2 separate regions of the Homo sapiens genome follow, and region 1 is linked to region 2. Evidence: fine-mapped expression QTL. A gene starts in region 2. The other region holds a variant in brackets. All regions are shown on one strand. Distances are between the middles of the regions. Region 1 overlaps DGKI (diacylglycerol kinase iota). Region 2 holds the start of DGKI (diacylglycerol kinase iota).

Evidence for each region.
Region 1: its variant is fine-mapped to the expression of DGKI in atrial appendage (GTEx, PIP above 0.99).

The regions. Positions count from the first base shown.
Region 1 is chr7:137,450,229-137,458,780 of GRCh38, forward strand. The region is part of intron 27 of DGKI (diacylglycerol kinase iota); the gene reads right to left. Among named protein-coding and RNA genes, the nearest start is that of PTN, 110 kb to the left of the region's middle. The variant G/A (reference allele first, on the strand shown) is at 4,555.
Region 2 is chr7:137,841,579-137,850,130 of GRCh38, forward strand. DGKI (diacylglycerol kinase iota) reads right to left here and starts at 5,396. Exons shown (of 33, transcript NM_001321708.2): 1 at 4,884-5,396. The coding sequence starts at 5,284. RefSeq lists an enhancer at 4,235-4,736 and silencers at 5,371-5,420, 5,905-6,199.

The DNA of each region.
Region 1 (8,552 bases), 390 kb before region 2:
TATAGTTAAGGATGATACACTGCATTCTTAAAAAATGCTAAGAGAGTAGATGCTAAGTGCTCTCACAATAAAATTTATAACTATGCATGGTAATGCATACGTTAATTAGCTACATAATTAATGGTTATATATATTTCACATCATGTTGTATACAACACATAATAATTTTATGTCAATTTTAAAATTATTTTTAAAGAACTAGAATAATAGCTGGGCATGGTGGCTCACCCCTGTAATCCCAGCACTTTGGGAGGCCAAGGCGGGCAGATCACCTGAGATCAGGAGTTTGACACCAGCCTGGCCAACATGGTGAAACCCTGTCTCTACTTAAAAAAATACAAAAATTAGCCAAGCGTGGTGGCACGCGCCTATAATCCCAGCTACTTGGGAGGCTAAGGCAGGAGAATCAGTTGAACCCAGGAGGCAGAGGTTGCAGTGAGCCAAGATTGCACCGTTGCACTCCTGCCTGGACAACAAGAGCGAAACTCTGTCTCGAAAAAATAAAAAATTAAAATAATATATAGTTACATATTTTTAATTATATACATATCTTTATATATACACATATATATATATTTTACTTTGGATTTACTCTTCCATGAATCTTGATCTGAATATTTGCTGGTGAAAGTACCCTTCCCAATATTAACCCTGCTTATGAGAATATCCATATTGTCTCTAAAATAAAGACAACTTTTCAAACTAGCATACACAGAGAAACTTGGAAAAAAAGGGAAGCTCTTGGAAAACAAAATGCTATTTTAGATAGAATATTATGTAATTTAACTGGTAAAAATTAAAATATTTTCATACTGAAACCAGCACAGTCATATTATGTATCCAAAAGCAAAAGTCCCTTGAATTTTTAAAGTCACAAACTTCGAAAACAAACAAACAAACAAAAAATAAAACAGGACAAAACAGATATCTGTGTTTGAGGCAGTCAGCTTCAGACAAGTCTCCAGGTTCCCAAGGAAGTAAGTTTGTTCCTCTGGAACGGAGTGTTGTCATGGCAGTCTGAATATATGAAATTACCCAACTAAACACAGCTATAATATCTTGGAATGAATCATTTTATTAGATTAATATATAGAGATATCACAAATCAGGGAACAAGACATTCAGCACATATTGGCTAGTGGCTGCTGCATTACAGACAGCACTCTATCTAAACTCAAGCATCTCTAAGAAACTCAAAGATACTTTTTTTAGATTGCCTTCAATCCACAAATTTTCCTTCAAAGCCTTTTATCTTTCTAGTAGATCGATTACAAGGCTTAAGGGCACTGAAAAATGTGCCCAGTTTTCTACCAGCAAAAGAGCAATACATAAAAGCAAATGAGTATTATATTTGGGAAGGCAAAGGACTTTATAAAGTATTGCACCTCTTATGATGTTTTATCGTTTTTAGTCAATAAACCTGGAAATGAAATAATGGGTGTCACGACTATTTCAGTCTTTATATCTGGTATAATATACTTTACAATAGGTTTTAGATATGTGCATTTTCTTGGTAAGCTCCATGAAATGATCAAAACTTACAAGCTGATCCTAATACAATATCCTTTTCATTTCAATAACACTGTCCAGTTTTCTTTCTTTTTATTTTTTTAGACTCTATGCATATTTTGCTTTATTTATTTTTTTTCATCATCTCATGGCTTTAATTTAAAAGCACCCATGGCCTTCCTACTTGGCCCTTCCTCAGAATGGCTACATCATTTCCTTCTTTGGAGATAGGATGTCAATAGATTATCCATTAGTCTTTCCTAAAGAACAGAGGATAGATTAGATAAATATTGGGGATGCCTCTATATGGGACTCTTACTTTCTGTAAAGAAACATCTACAAATGAATGTCTATCTCTATTCCGTGTCCCCAACACATATACCTTCTACTCAGCACTGCTAAACCATCACCTGGTGGGGAGTTGGCCAAGGGATGGGGCCACCACATAGAGATGGGCTTAAGATAAACATGCAGGACAGGTGTGACAGCAGAGTTTAAATAGGCACAAGAGCATAGATTCATATTCTGAAAACACTCAGCAGTGGGATTCCCCAGGACCACAGACTATGGATGGAGTAGAAGAGGTGGGAGACACTCATCCAATTCACGGGCCTGACTGAAATAGCCAAGGCCCCTTCATTTTCTGGCTACCATCCTGCAATAAGAAAAGGAAACAAAGCGGGAATGCTGGGCAAGCTAGACACCGTGCTCCTTCTACACCCTACACAGCACACTACAAATAAGTACACCACTCCTTATTGTGAAGTTCTTGTTGGGGAACAAAGCAGCACACGTATGTCCACACACTGAAAACAACTCACTATATGCGTATTTTATTCAATTTCCCTTTCATGCCTGTCTTTCCTCTTTACTGTCTAGCTTTGGGGATGAGAACCACAGCAAAAAGACCACTTTCTATAAACATCAGGTGATGATCCATCCTACTTAGGAAGGGAAAGAGAAGCTCTTAATGTCAGCTCTGAATGTTCTTTCTCTGTCGTTTCAGTCATTTACTTGTATTTCTTTTCCCCTCTCCTGACCACAGCCCTGAGAGTTTCCTGGACTTTCTCATTTACCTTTGTCACAGTTGGGTGGAATCCAGTCTTTCCTGGATAGAACAGCCTCCCATCATGTGCTCACACCTTTTTCCTATGGTGAACATGTAAGAATGTTCATGCCTGGTCAGCATTCCCCAGGTTCCACTTTCCTCCCTGCTTCTTGAGCCATGATGCTTGTCCTCTGTTACACTCCTACGTAGTCCCGAATGAAAACCGATTTCCCAGTTGGGCATTCTCTCCAGGCACATTTCAACGGTCTGCATCACAACTGCAGAAACCTCATCTTTTTCTTCTGTTTTACCGTGAAGTGGTGATGCTACACAAATTCCATCTATTTCCTAAAACTGTTGGTAGACAAGAATCTTCATTCAAATCAAGTGAGCAAAGGTATGATTTACTGTGCTGTGAAAGCATGGCTGCAGATTATCATCTCTGTGCAATAGCTTTCTTCCCTTGAGCATCTCTCAAGGGTGCATTGCCTATCCTGGAGAACTAGTTTGCCAGGCCTATGACATCATTTGGAGGACCCAAGGGAGAAAGAATGAGACCATGGATCTGTGTGACATCTTCACCATTATCACTCTAGCCCCAAAGCATCTCTAATTAGGTAAAATAGGACCAGAAATCCCACAGCACTGCAAATCTCCATCGACTACATAATCCTCTCTTTGTTTGCTTTTGGTCCTTCTAATTGTGAATATTTCTCTTAAAACAGTGAACAAAGCACATACAGTAAAAGAGAGCAGGCGAGAATGAGAGTGAGAGATGAAAGTTACAGCAAACACACAGAGTGGCATTGAAATGAGAGAAAGACAAACACATTCTCTATTCAAGTGGTCACAAACCCATTCAGGGAATGCCAAGCAGCCTCAAAGGTAACATTCATGACCAACAGAGGGAAGGGGTGCAGAAAGAGCAAAATGAAAGGAAGAAGACAGAGATGAGCATTTGTGTGGAGGGAAGGAAATCATTTCCAGCATGTAAATAATAAAGGCTGCTTGGTGAGTTCCTCATTTGATACAAATTTCTACCAATTCCCTTTATTATCATAATTTCCCAGTCTTTAAGACTCACCTACCCAAATATATGCCTTGATGACCCCCATGTGAGCTGGGCTTGAAATATCTTGTTTTTTTTTTTTTTAAATAGATTCCTATATTTAGATATATTTGGCTTTTAGAAAATAGCACTGTTCAGGTTGGGGAGATATTGGTCAAAGGACGTATAATTACAGTTCAGCAGACTAAGTTCAAGAGATCCATTGTACAACATGGTGACTTTGGTTAATGATGATATAATATATTCTTAAAAAATGCACAGAGAGTGCATATTAAGTGTCCTCACCACAAAAATAACTGTGTGATGTAATGCATTCATTGATCAGCCAGGTTTAGCCATTCAACAATGTATACGTACTTCAAAAAATCATGTTGTACACAATAAATATATGCAATTAGTCAATTAAAAAGTCTAAAAACTAATTTTAAAAAAACGCTGTTTTACCTTTAGCATTTACAATTCCATACTTTCTGTATACCCTCCTCAGTTTGCTGAGTCGCCTGAATGTCTTTCGAGTATAAAATTTTACTGCCACCTACTGTTAACTTTTAAGAACTGCAACAAAATGAGGGCAAAGCAGTTTGAAATGTGAGAGATTGAGGAAGAATGGGCGACAGTGGACACAGAAAAGAAATAGATAAAATAAAGAGATGAAGTTGGAGAAAATAATACTTCACAAGCTTATTTATCCTGACGATGTAGCCATCACATTTTAGCATTCTGTAGACAAAATGAAAAAAGAAATAATTAAACCCAGCACAGTTGTGAAGCAATAAAGGATGGGTGGCTTGCCTTTAGAAATCAGTCTCTGCAATATAGTTGCCAGCCCACTTTCTAAAAAAAAGGGTGAAGAAATAGAAAAGGCACATTATTCTAAAATCCAGACAACGGAGACATACCCGGAGAGCCAGGAGGAAGGACCCTTTAG[G/A]AAAAGCCAAGCTGCCAGCTTTATCCTAGTGACTCTGGGAACCCCGGCCAACAGCTTCTGTTGAGACATAATCCATCTGGATTTTGTAAATGTGGACTTCTTTTTTTTCTTTTTAAGCATAAGTTGAAACATGAGGGAGCTCTGGATTGTGAAGGCAAGTCACATGAGAGCCACGTTTAGTCTTAGCACGTGGGGCTTATAAGCAAGGCACCTCACTTATCTCGTGATCCCGGATATGCAATATCTCCCTGTGGTAATTGAGTAAGGGCTCAGCCACAGCTACTTATTTTTAGGAAATCCAAATAAGGACTTCTGATCCCAGTTTTAGAAAATGGGAGACAAAACTAGGCGGGGTTGGAAGCTGGTTTGGCACCTCTGAAGATAACTGTAACATACCCCAGCAGCTTTCTGACAACATCTCCTCCCACCCCACCCTTCTCAGGAGAGGGTGGGAACAGAATCTAAACATTGTCTGCTTCCTCCTGACTCTAATGTGTCTAAGGACAAGAGAGTTTCTCAGTTATAGATCAGTTCGAGGAGCTCTGTGAAAAAAAATATAATGAATGCAGATAAATCATAGTAATATTGAAAACAAGAAATTAAAATGGGCTCGACAGACTGTGAGAATAATTCAGTGACTCCAGTGTTAGATATTAAGAACTGCTATGTACTTAACTCTATTCCAAGAGCTGTGGGAGGTACTTAACTTAAAACATTCCATTCCCACCTTTAAGGAGCTTGTAAGGGAGTCATGGAGTAAGACCAGCATCTCACAGAGTATTGGAGAAAACTGTTGGAGGATTGTTGTTCTTATGTGTGATGCCTGGCACAATCATCCAGAAAAGTTAAAAAAAAAAGGGGGGGGGGCGGGGAATGTGGTCTCCATCTCCCTGAATTCCAAATAAGTAGTGCTAGCATGGTGTGGAGATATCTCTTGTTCTGATCTTCTTAGAGTAGGGGGTTCAGAGGGCCCCAGAAGTACCGCAGAGAAGTCCCATGCCCGATATGACTCCCCAGCCACCACCATTTCCAGTGATAATATGACATCCCTCTCACATTCCTCAACTCCACACTGAACATGGTAAGTGATTACTGCTCCACATCCCAGCAACTTGAGATTTGCAAGCGAATTTTTTTGAAAATATTTCAAAATGATCACTCTTTCACACTTTAGATCTGTTTAATCAAATTATTCACCTAAGACAGACACACTGAGAAAACAAGAGTGTTGGTGGAAGTTGGAGAATGCAGCCGGGGACCAACAGTTTATTTTGGAGGTGAATGCCTGGGAAACAATTCTTCCTTGCCACTCTACCTACCACTGTGCTCACCAACAGTGCCTACAACTTCCTATACCGACCATACTTACCTTTTACTTTCTCGCTTGTGAAATACCAACATTTCTCCAAGTCAGGCATTCAGGTGTGTCTTTATTATTTTGATCTGTGAATTCCCTGGATCCAGCATACTTATATTCAAATTTGAAATATATAAATGGAACCCACAGCCTAACAAAAATGGTCAACATTTTACATATTATTTTGTTATCACTATTATTTTGTTATAATTTGATAAGTACTGGGTTTAGTATAGCAATATAAATAGACACGTATTTATTTTGGTTTGACAAAGCACCTTTTCTATCAAGGGATGTTCTATGAATGGAACATCCTTCTATTCATCCCAAAAGCCTGCCTTGTTGGATGCCTACCATTTTAGGTATGGTGCAAAGTGCTATGGAGACAGAGGGAGAAATGCACAGTTTGGTCATCCAAGGAACTCACATGCTTTAAAGAGGGATCCAATCAATACTGCCTCACATTCACAGTATTCCTGAAGTGTGAATAAATATGGCTGCCAGCTTTTACAAATGTAAAAAGAGAGCCACTTAACACTAATATTTCCTCATACTCTAATCATTGGCAAAACTTGGAACTCATGGCAATGAAGGGCGAGAATTTCCTGGGATTATTTCAAATAAAATGGATGTTTAACATTAAAGTAAGTTTGTTTGTTTTTCTTTCAATGTCAGTCAAAATAAGATCTGGTACACAGGGAACTCTGTTCTAACTCTTCCACTAACTGAACTTGGAAAGGTAAATTTAAATCCATTTCCTCCGAGTGGTTTAGGGCCTCCATATGCATAACTGATTGAGGAACAATTCTAAAAATAACAAAGGCAAATCTCTTATTAAATATTTCACACACCCATAGGAATAGAGTGTTATTATGTGCTTGCCAAATAGAGTAATTCACCAAGTCATTTCAAACTCAAGGTAAGTCAAGAAGAAAAAGAAGAAGGAAGACATATGTCAGCTATCCTGTATTTTTCCAGCTGGAATGAGTATCCGGGGTGAGCAAGATTGAGCCCAGTCAAAGGTAAGCAGGGATGTCAAAGGTAGGTAGAAACGGGACCCAACTATCTCAGTGAAACAGATGCCAGGAGCCATCTTTATCCTGACAGCACTGATTTCATCTCTAAGATATATTTCAGCAAAACCTGCATCCCACTAAGAAGATTAATTTTCTCCCGCTTATCTGATTGTGAAGCTGAAAGAATATTTCCAAAATCAAAATCGCTGTCCAACAGTCTGTCTTCCTGTTGAGAACCTGAAACTTTCACAATAAGCACAATTACCCTTTTTATTAGGTTCAGGCCATAACCTAATGTTCCCAGAAGAAACTGAATAAAGAAAATAGTTGAGGACCAGAGGGGAATGATGTTGTTTCTCCCATAATCAGCTTAGAACATCTGAGTTTTCAGAACACAGGAGGTCTCCGGGCTTTATCTTCTCGATATAGTGATTCAGAATTGCAATTGCAGACTATACTAAAAAGGCCAGTTTTTCAGTTTAAAGTATTATTAGGTATCTTGGTATCTCCAAATAATTTCTCGGTTGTCCAAATTTCCTTGAGCACACATAGCATATGGAGAGGTTGAACTACCATTGAATGTTTTCCATTATTTGAGAGATATTTCTGGTTTACACAATGAGGAAGGACAAATACTTATCTGTTCACATGTAAAAAATGAAGAAAATACACATAGAACACTTAATAAGCCTATTTTTTTTCTTTGAGGCTGACATTTTCGTTAATTCTTTAAATATTCATCATTTCTAGGGTCAAAAAAGTTAAATCTAAAAAAAAAAGCAGCAAATTATATTTCCTCTTGTTTCCAGAACACTCTATGCATATATCCATAATAGCACTTATTAGAAGGAACTTTAATAATTGGTTTAATATTTCCCCTTTAAATATAAGCTCTTCAAGGGCAATAATTATTTCTTCTTTAGTTGTATATCTTCAGTGCCTGACTTCAGTCACTGAAGGTGCCCAATACTGATTTGTTCAATACACGATTGACTGAATTGTTTACCCTATTTCTTAGGGTAATCACAATGAAATCACAAATCAGACCTCACACATTATAGTTAAACATTTGATAGCATTATCTTTCCTTGAAGACAGAAATCCTCTGCCAATCATAAAAACCCATTAGCCTTGTGCAGCTGATCGGGTACCAGATACCTGCCTAGACACAATTATCTGGATTGAATATCTACCCTCGGTGTGGTTCACTACACTGTTTCCCCTGTGTCTTAGTCTAGTGGCAAGATATTATTTGTGTGACAGTCCATTTTAGTTCTTTCAGGACTAGGACTTGGGGACATTGAGAAAAAGTACAACTCTTTCAGTCATTTGGGGGTTTCTTACGAACTACAAAATCTAAGAACCGGAAAAAGGTTACTCTGATTCAGAAACAAAAGCAGTGTCTCCTAGACCCTTTACCTGCCTGCTCTTAACCCACCTGACTCAGAGGTGAGTCAGTCCTTTTCTCAAAGAAAACTTAAGAAGAATATATCAGAGTTTTCATTCCATGCCTATTTTCTTTTCTCATAGATCCTCAAGTGGCAAAATTCTTCCTTACAACTCAAATAGATTTGGTCTGCTAAAATTTAAGTAAATTCCCTCTCTATTAATCTTCTGCCAAATGA
Region 2 (8,552 bases):
CATACCCATGGAAGAAAGCAAATGTCACAGCCCAACGTGTAGGCAATAGTTCTTCCAGATGCTTCTGGTCTCACAGTGTACTCAACTTCAAGGATACCTTGGGGTTGTGTAGGGAACATGTTCTCAGATCCCAGGCCAGACGAACATACAGGGTGTAGACAGCCTGGGCTCTCACTAGGAACCCTCATTTCCTCAGACTAGAAAGTGCGGTGTTGGAAAGAGCTAGCTCTAGTCTAATTGAATTTGGCCCCATGAGGCAATGCTGTTGTTTGTTGCCACAGCAGAATTGAACACCAGCAAAGACCTCTCTTCAACTTCCCTATCCCCAGATTCCACAGGACCCAATAGTGTCAATCTCCCAGGTAAAAATCAAGCCTCTAAAAGATCACTTAGAGCAGAATAAGTACTCCGGACAGTGGTTGAATTGAAATCTTGCCCAGTGTGTATCCTAACTGAGGAAGTAACAGTCAGTATGTAAGTCATTACTGAGAAAGGAATTAAATTAGAACCAAGATCTTAATCTGATCCTACAGTCTTTAAAAATCTAACAGATGTGCAAAACACGGATAAAAACAAAATAAAATGGATTTACAAAAGAGGATACATACTGATATTCAGGAGAAAAGTTCCCCCATACACTATTGATTACAATGCAAGGAAGACCAATATCCATTTTATCCTACGTGGCTTCGAACTCCTCAAATATCTTTCTTGTAATAACACAACCTTACTTTGTGGGACAAAACACACGCAAAAAAACTACATTCTAATCATCAACCTATAAAGAATAACAGATCATTTTTTACATGGTTGCCCAAACTAAAGCGTTTAATACTCCTTGCTCCTATTTCTATCTCATACCAAAAACTTCCTTTAAGAAAGGTTTAGTATTACCAGCATGGTTTATGAGCAGAGAAACTAAATCATAGGCATCAACATCTCATAAGTAATGGTCTGCCCAGACATACTGACAAGCAAAATTGTACTTCATCACTCATTCTGTGCTGCCCAAAGAGGTACCGATGGGCCAGCTCTTCATTGGACCTAGGTTCGCCTACACAACCCTGTGTAAATTTTTTTTTAAGGCATATAAACCTCTAACGAGGATATCTTCATAGCAGGTGCATGTAGGTGGTTTTGTTCTCAGAAGCAAAACTGATATATTTGCAATCATGAATTTATATTCATTTATATTTCTGAGATAGTAGAAGAGTTCCCTAAAATTATATAGACAAAGGGCCACAAGCCAAAAAAAGGTATGCAATAATATATAATAATAATAATATGTAATGACCTGCCGTGTATTACAGATGAGGGGGAAGATAACTCACACTGCACACACGCATGCATACACATATGCACACATGGACAGAGAGCTCAAGCCTAAAATAAATGTTTAGGGAAGCAGCGTGATGCGGTCTAAAGAGACAGTCCTTTGGAGTCATCTGTGTTTTAAATTCTGCCTCCTGCCCAAGCTCTATGCCTCAAGTTCATTTTCAATAAAATGGAAATAGTCATAGTCACATCACAGGACTGTCACAAAGATTAATTAAGACAGAATATACAATAAGGCTTAGCCCAGTGCCTGTTGCATAGAAGACAATAAACATCAGCTACCTTCTCCTTCCCCTCCCTTATGTGTTTCTGAAGTCTTTTTTTTTTTATTGTACTGACTTATATGGGAATTCTTACAGCAGTTTAAAAAAAAAAACAGTTCCTACACAGTATATAGTCATTTACACATATGTATCTGTTGCAGCACCATAATTTGCAAAGAAAAACGAAGTAGTAATTTTAAAAGAAAAGTACCAGCTCACTCGCACTGCCTTTTCAAACCTTCAGCTTTACAGTCGACAGAGACTATTTGCTCTAGGGGTGCAGATTCTGAAATAAAGGAAAAAATTCTCATGGGAAAAATGGTTCTCAAAAAAAGCCAACACAGAATAGATAATGAGGGGAAATCTAGGAGTACAGAAAGCAGTTTATTTTACTTAACAAAGTAAAAGTCAAGCAAAATGAATAATCTGCCTCCAGAAATGGTTATTTAAAGGCTTTTTGTAAAGGGCTCTGGTTCCTAAAAAGACAGGAGTCACTGCATATGCCCACCCACTCCTCATTTATTTTTAAACCCTAGCTTATATGTTCCTTAGCAACAGAAGGAGCAGATGAGACCCCCCTACACACACACACACACACACACACACACACACACACACACCCTCTCTCCCAAAGCCCCCTTCTTTTTGCCTGTCAAGTTTCATTCCAAAAATACACATGTTCTTCAAAAGATATTTTTTGCCTACCTGCAAATCTCCACTCCTCCACCTCAAATGATCCCCCTCACGCAAGCAGCCATGCTCCATACCCTAACTCAGTCCTTTCACTCAGACTCCATTCTGTGAGGTCTTCCTGCCTCCTCTCCATAAGCTCCCACCAGACACTGTCCTCAGGTGCCCCCAGAAGGGAGGTGGTGTGGTCCCCACCAAGGAGCCGACCCTCAGCTCCTGACAAACCTGCTCTTTTTTTACACACCCTTCATCCATCCCACAGTAAAACAGCCAGCCCTGCTGCAGGAGTCCAGCACCAATGGCCGCCATGACGAGTGGGCAGGCCATTCACCATTACTCCAAAACAAATAAGTAACAGTGATCAAAATGGAGACAATTTCCTGTTACCCAGGCACAAACATGCTCCAGATGGAAGCACCTCCTTTTCACCATCTTTCCTCTGACTTTGAGACTGACTGGCCTGGTTTGGATGGGGAGGGTTTATGAGTTCAAAGATCAATTGTTTAGTCTTGGGGGCAAAATAGGGTGGCAATCCCCATATATTAGTCTGCATAAACATCGCCTGAGGAGCGTGTTAAAAATTCTCACCCACAGACAGTTTGATTCTGCAAGTCTAGGGTGGTGAGCACTTTTAACCAGACACCTGAGGTGACACTGATGCAGGAATTGGAGACTGTAAAGCTTTATTTAAAAGGAAATGATGTTCACGAAGTAGAATCCACCTCTATGTAAGGATTGTAAAGCAGACGCAATGTTATTATTCTTCTATAGAAACATGCTGCGTCTGTGTCCATGTCTATGCTTGTGTGTGTACACACTTACACGTGCATGTGTGAGCATGCAACTCAGAAAGCCAAAACCCCACACAACATACATTTTAAAAAAGGAGGCTCAGAGAATGACCCCTGACAAGAGGCAAGCTGAAATGATTTCCCTTGCAAACTCTGGCTTTGTCTTCCTACCCAGTGAGGACTCTGATGAATACCAATAAGCCAGGAGCAGCCTACACTGTGCTTCATGTAATCACCACCCCCTTCCAACTCACAGCTCCTAAATTAGGCTGAATGTAGTCCCTGTTCCCCCAGGGGCCAGACGGGCCATCATAACTAGGAAGTAGAACTGCCAGTGTCCTAGCATACCTCCCTAGAGCTACCCCCTCCCCACCATCTGTCTATTTTTAGAAACCAAAGTATAAAAAGAAAGATCCATTTGGACCTGATCTGTGTGAGTAACTAAGAGAACAACTCAGGTGGGGAACTCCCTCAGCGCACAGCGAACAAAATGCATGGGAGGAACGCAGAAGCAACAACCTCACCAGGAAGGCGTTTTAGGAGTCATCAGAAGTCAACACTTAGACACAGAGCACATGCCCTAGTGACTGTGGCCTCCAGGCCAGGCGATGTCTATGGGGATCCCAATTATTCACACACCTGCCCCCATAAATAAAACACACCCTCCCAAACCCACACACCTCTGTCATCTGCGTTTGCTTACATAACAGCACATGGTGTGACAGGCTTAATACTTTATATGGTTTTTGGGAAGGGAACACTAACTCAGAAAGAGTAGGGTTACAAGAATGTTTTCACTGACCCCTTTTCCAGAAACCCTCTGAGCTCCAGCAAGTGTACATCTTTGTAAACCTATGCTTGCATATCACCTCGACCTTTAACATCGATAAGCAGTAGGGTTAGTGTCAACAACTCTCCAAACCTGTCAATGTCTTTATTCTTGCCTGCGGAAGGGAGGGGTGAGAGAGACCTTAATAAATCCTAATTCCTCGTTGTTGGATTCTAATACAATGTGGGGTTATCTTTTATCCTAATTTAAAGGCCATTGATCCCACACTGTCCTTGTCTTACACATACACTCATCCTTAGGTGCAAATATGGTCCCCACTCTCACCTTCACCCCTAGCTTGCCAGCGGGCTCCCCACACCCTCCTCCAGCCAGGAGAGAGGCAAGGAGCACGCAGGCATGGAGCCCCCATAACCAGTGGCGCATCTACAGACATAAACCCACTCTTCCTTCATGGGGGATTTCGAGGCAGGTCCAACTTCCATAAGGATTTCTCTTCAGTGTAGTGCTATTCTTTTCTGCCTGTCGGAGTGATCTCAGCTGTCAAGTTAGTGCCAAAGGTTCATCCAGCGAAATCTGGAAGGTGGGGGAAGGGTGGTTGAAGATGACACCTGCTTAGGGGCAACTTTGACGACTTCTCTTAAGAAAACTAAGCATCACTGAGTCTGCAACCCTTTCTCTCTCTCTCTTTCTCTCTCTCTCTCTCTCTCTCTCTCTCACACACACACACACACACACACACACACACACACACACACAGACAAAATTTCTGTTGCTCTGACCTTAGGGACCCAGTGCTTCTCTCCTGCCACAGGGGAAAGCAGGCGTTGCTGCCCTCCAGCCTGGAATGATAGGATGGGGAGAAGACAGACATCCCCGGGAGGAGAGGGGGAAAGGGGGAAGGAGAGGCGTGGAAACAGAGAGGTGCCCAACTCCGCGGAAGCGCCCCTTGCTGGGTAGAAGAGTGGGTCTCCCGCCGCGGCGCACCTGTCTCGGCTGCCGGCTCCCCGCACCTACCTGTACGAGACCTGCTTCCGGAAAGTTAAGTTCCTCAGCTTCTCCTCCAGCGCTTCGTCCTTCTCCTTCTGGCCGGCGGCCGCGGGCTCGTCCAGGGCAGCGGCCCCCGCCGCCGCGGCTGACCCTGCGCCCCGCGGGTCCGCGCCGCCCTCGGCGCCCAGGCAGCAGCTCCCGGCGCCGCTTCCGCTGCTGCTGCTGCCGCCCGTCGCCCCTTTCTCCTCTCCCGCCGAGGAGCTGGGGTTCATGGCGCCCGCTCCGGCGGCCGCGGAGGGAGCGCAGGCGGCGCCGCTGCAGGGGCCGGGCGGGCTGGCGGCGGCGGCGGCGGCGGCTGCAGGAGCGCGGGCAGGTCCGCGCGCCGCTGGCAGGGGCAGCAAATGGCAGCCCCTTCCCGCAGCATCCATCCGCGGCTGCACCGCACCGGGGCATTGTGGGAAACTCCGCTCACTCCCCCGCCCCGGCCAATCAGAGGCCGCCGCTCCCCGCCTCCCGCGCCCTCCCGCGCCGGCCCGCACCCTCCAGCCCCGCCGGCCTCTTCCTAAATCCCGAGCGAAAGCCCAAGCTGAACATGAACTCTGCCCGGAGGCGACGGGCTGCGGCGGAGGGGGAGAGAGAGGAGGACAGGCTGCGACCCCGGGCTGGGGACGCCAGGGCAGGGACAGCGAGCATCAGGAAGGAGAGCGTCCGGGGAACTCGAGTGGCCGCGCCCTGGGTCCTGCACCGTGAGGCTGGGGGGACCAGGACCGGCGGGCGCCCACCTTGGTCCTGAGCCCAGCTGCCGACGCTGGGCCAGCACCCTCTCCACCGCCGCCCTCCAGTGAGCAGAGCTGGGCTCAGGCAGCAGCCCCTGGGCGCGGGAAGGTAGCGGGAGCTGCATTTAGGGGAGGGGGGAGGTAGCAGGAGCTCCGCCAGTGGGAACCTTGGAGTGAATTCGTCGGCGGGTGCCAAGTCGAAGCGCCGACCTCCTGTCTCTGGACTGGGGCCCGGACCCCTGCGTCCCCAAACTGCGTCCCCGCCTTGCTCGTCGCCCGGTGCCTTCCTTAGGCGCAGCAGACCCTCGGTAAACAGCGGTTAATTCGATGGAATCGGATCACAGGGCCCTCGGTGAAGCAGAAAGGCGGAGGAAATCCAGGAGGCAGAAGTGAGGACCCTGGCGCCTGGCGCCGCTGCGTTGTTCGTATAAGAAGAGGCATCCCGGAAGGGGCTTCAAACCACTTAGGACCGACTGCTGAAACGAATCCAAGCTTGTGGTGTCTGCAGAATTTAACTGTCCGCCTCAACCCCAGTTTTTGTTTCTAAGATTATCGAAAACTGTGCGGTTTGAGTGATGTGCTACAAAGTGTTTAAAACAGATTGTTTCCCAAATTAGGGGTTTCCACACAAGAAATCGCTGCTGTCGGCAAACACAGGAACTATCTATGGTTAAGACAAGGTGGTGTTCGTAACCAAACTATAAACCTACATATACGAGGTGGTAAGAGAACCAGACCAATGAACAGTTTCAGGCTGGCGTGGTGTGCCCGTGAACAAAGAATTGTAATACTGGCAAAAATCTAAATTGCTTTCTTTCCCTTTATTTTCTCATCACTAAAATTAGGAAAATGAACAGATATGTCAAATCTCTTCTAACACCCATGTTCTGTAACTCTCCTCGTATGTACCTTATAATAAGACAAAGGTAAAGACATTTCCATGTGCAGCGAGGAAAAGTAATAATAAAAATTAAAACAACTAGCAAGTATGAAGCCCTCTTTTTATACGGTATGTGCTGTATAAGCACTTCCCTCATCCACCTCTATGTTTTCACAGCACCTCTCAAGGGCTTGGACACGTGCAAATGCAAACTGGCAAAGCCAGGAGTCAAGCCAGGCTGCTCAGTGGCCTTTGTGCTTCACCCCAGTTTAATGCACCCGTCTTCAGAAGGGACATCGTGTATTAGGTGCTTCAACACAAGATCCACGAATATCTCGTACATCCCTAAAATCAAGCAAATGTCATCTGAACCCAATTACTGGGACAGCCCCCTCATTACTCCCACTTACTTTTAGCCGTATCTTCCCCAATCCAATCTCAAGTGTGAGCCCCAAAATACTTCTGATTTTTCACGCCTCCACTTAAAAATCTTTTGATTATGTCATATTGCCGTTAGGGTAAAGTTCAAACAACTCAGCTGATTTTGAGGGCTACATTGGTGGGTGGTGGAGTACTGCCCGCTTTCCCTTCATACTGTCATGACAGTGAGGTTCTGAACTGTTCTTTGTGCAAACCCCACACGCTCTCTGCTCTCTCCATTCCCATTTTTGCACGTGTGAGTCTGCTGTCTCCTCTTCTTTGCTTCTCCTTTTCCTAAGATTTGCCAAGCCAACTACTCTACACCTCCATCGGATTTTAGTTTACATGTCTCTCCCCATGTTTCTCCCCACTAGAAGCCTCCGTTGATGATCCCTTTCTAGACTGTGATGGACGTACCTCCCATAGCTCCCATTGCACCATTGTACTAAACTTGGACCACTGCAACTGTCATGTGTCTATTTATCCCACATGTATATAAACGCTATATGTTGTTTATCACTATATCTTCAGTAATAATAAACAGGTAACATAATTGCATAAGTGTGTATATCATAGACCATCATGAAGTGTTTATTGACTGAGAAAAGAAATATACATCGTTGTGAACATAATGAAAGACGTCATTTTTCAGAACAAACAGTTTGATAATAGATGGTATTGATGAGGGGGTATGAAAACAAATGCTTCCTCAAATTTTTGATATACTTTAACTAGTAAAATCTCTCTGATGGTAAATTTTACAATATCTATCCATGTTTGAAATGCATGACCTAATTAACTAAGCAATTTCACTTCTAAAAATTCGTCCTCTGATATACTTGTAGGTATACACAAGGATTTAAGATTGAAAACAACCTAAATTGTTATTCATCCAAACAATGGAATTCTCTGGAACTGTCAAGATACATAAGGCAAGTTAACATTCATTAATATAAAACAATCTCAAATATATAATGTTAACAAAAAAAGAAAAACAATGCTCAGAGTATTTAGTAGTATGCTATCATTTATGGAGAAAAGAAGATCTATAGAGATATAATATTTCTGGAAGGATACATAAGAAAATGGTCACAGTGAAGCGGAGTTGAATGGCTCTAGCTAGAGTCTTGAGGTTTTGCCTGATTCAATAAGTACATGCCAACAGAATGTCTCCCAGCCTATCAGAAAAGCCAGCTGGACCTCTCAAGTGTGTATTTATATGTTTAAATAGTGTATTAATGGGTTGCTAATCAGAGGAATATTGGGTTTTTAAAAAAACAGTCATTGAACATTAACTCTAACTTAAGACAGAGCGACATTTGGGAAGCACAAATAATTCCAGCAAAAGACAAATGAATTCTGTTGTGGGGTGATCTCCTGAGAAGTTACTTAAAATATTAGTCATTCTCTTAGACAATTTATTTTCCTTTCTATTTTTCAACGATCACCAAGTAACCTTGTAATTATTCATCCTGCTTCTTAGTTTCCTTGACACTAAAAAGTGGAATCCTTGAAAATGGGTCAAAAGCATTCTAATCACAAAAATAAATTGACATTCTGCTTTGAAACTGCATTGCATGTGATTTTGAGTAACATAAGTACATAACCAAGAAAATGAGC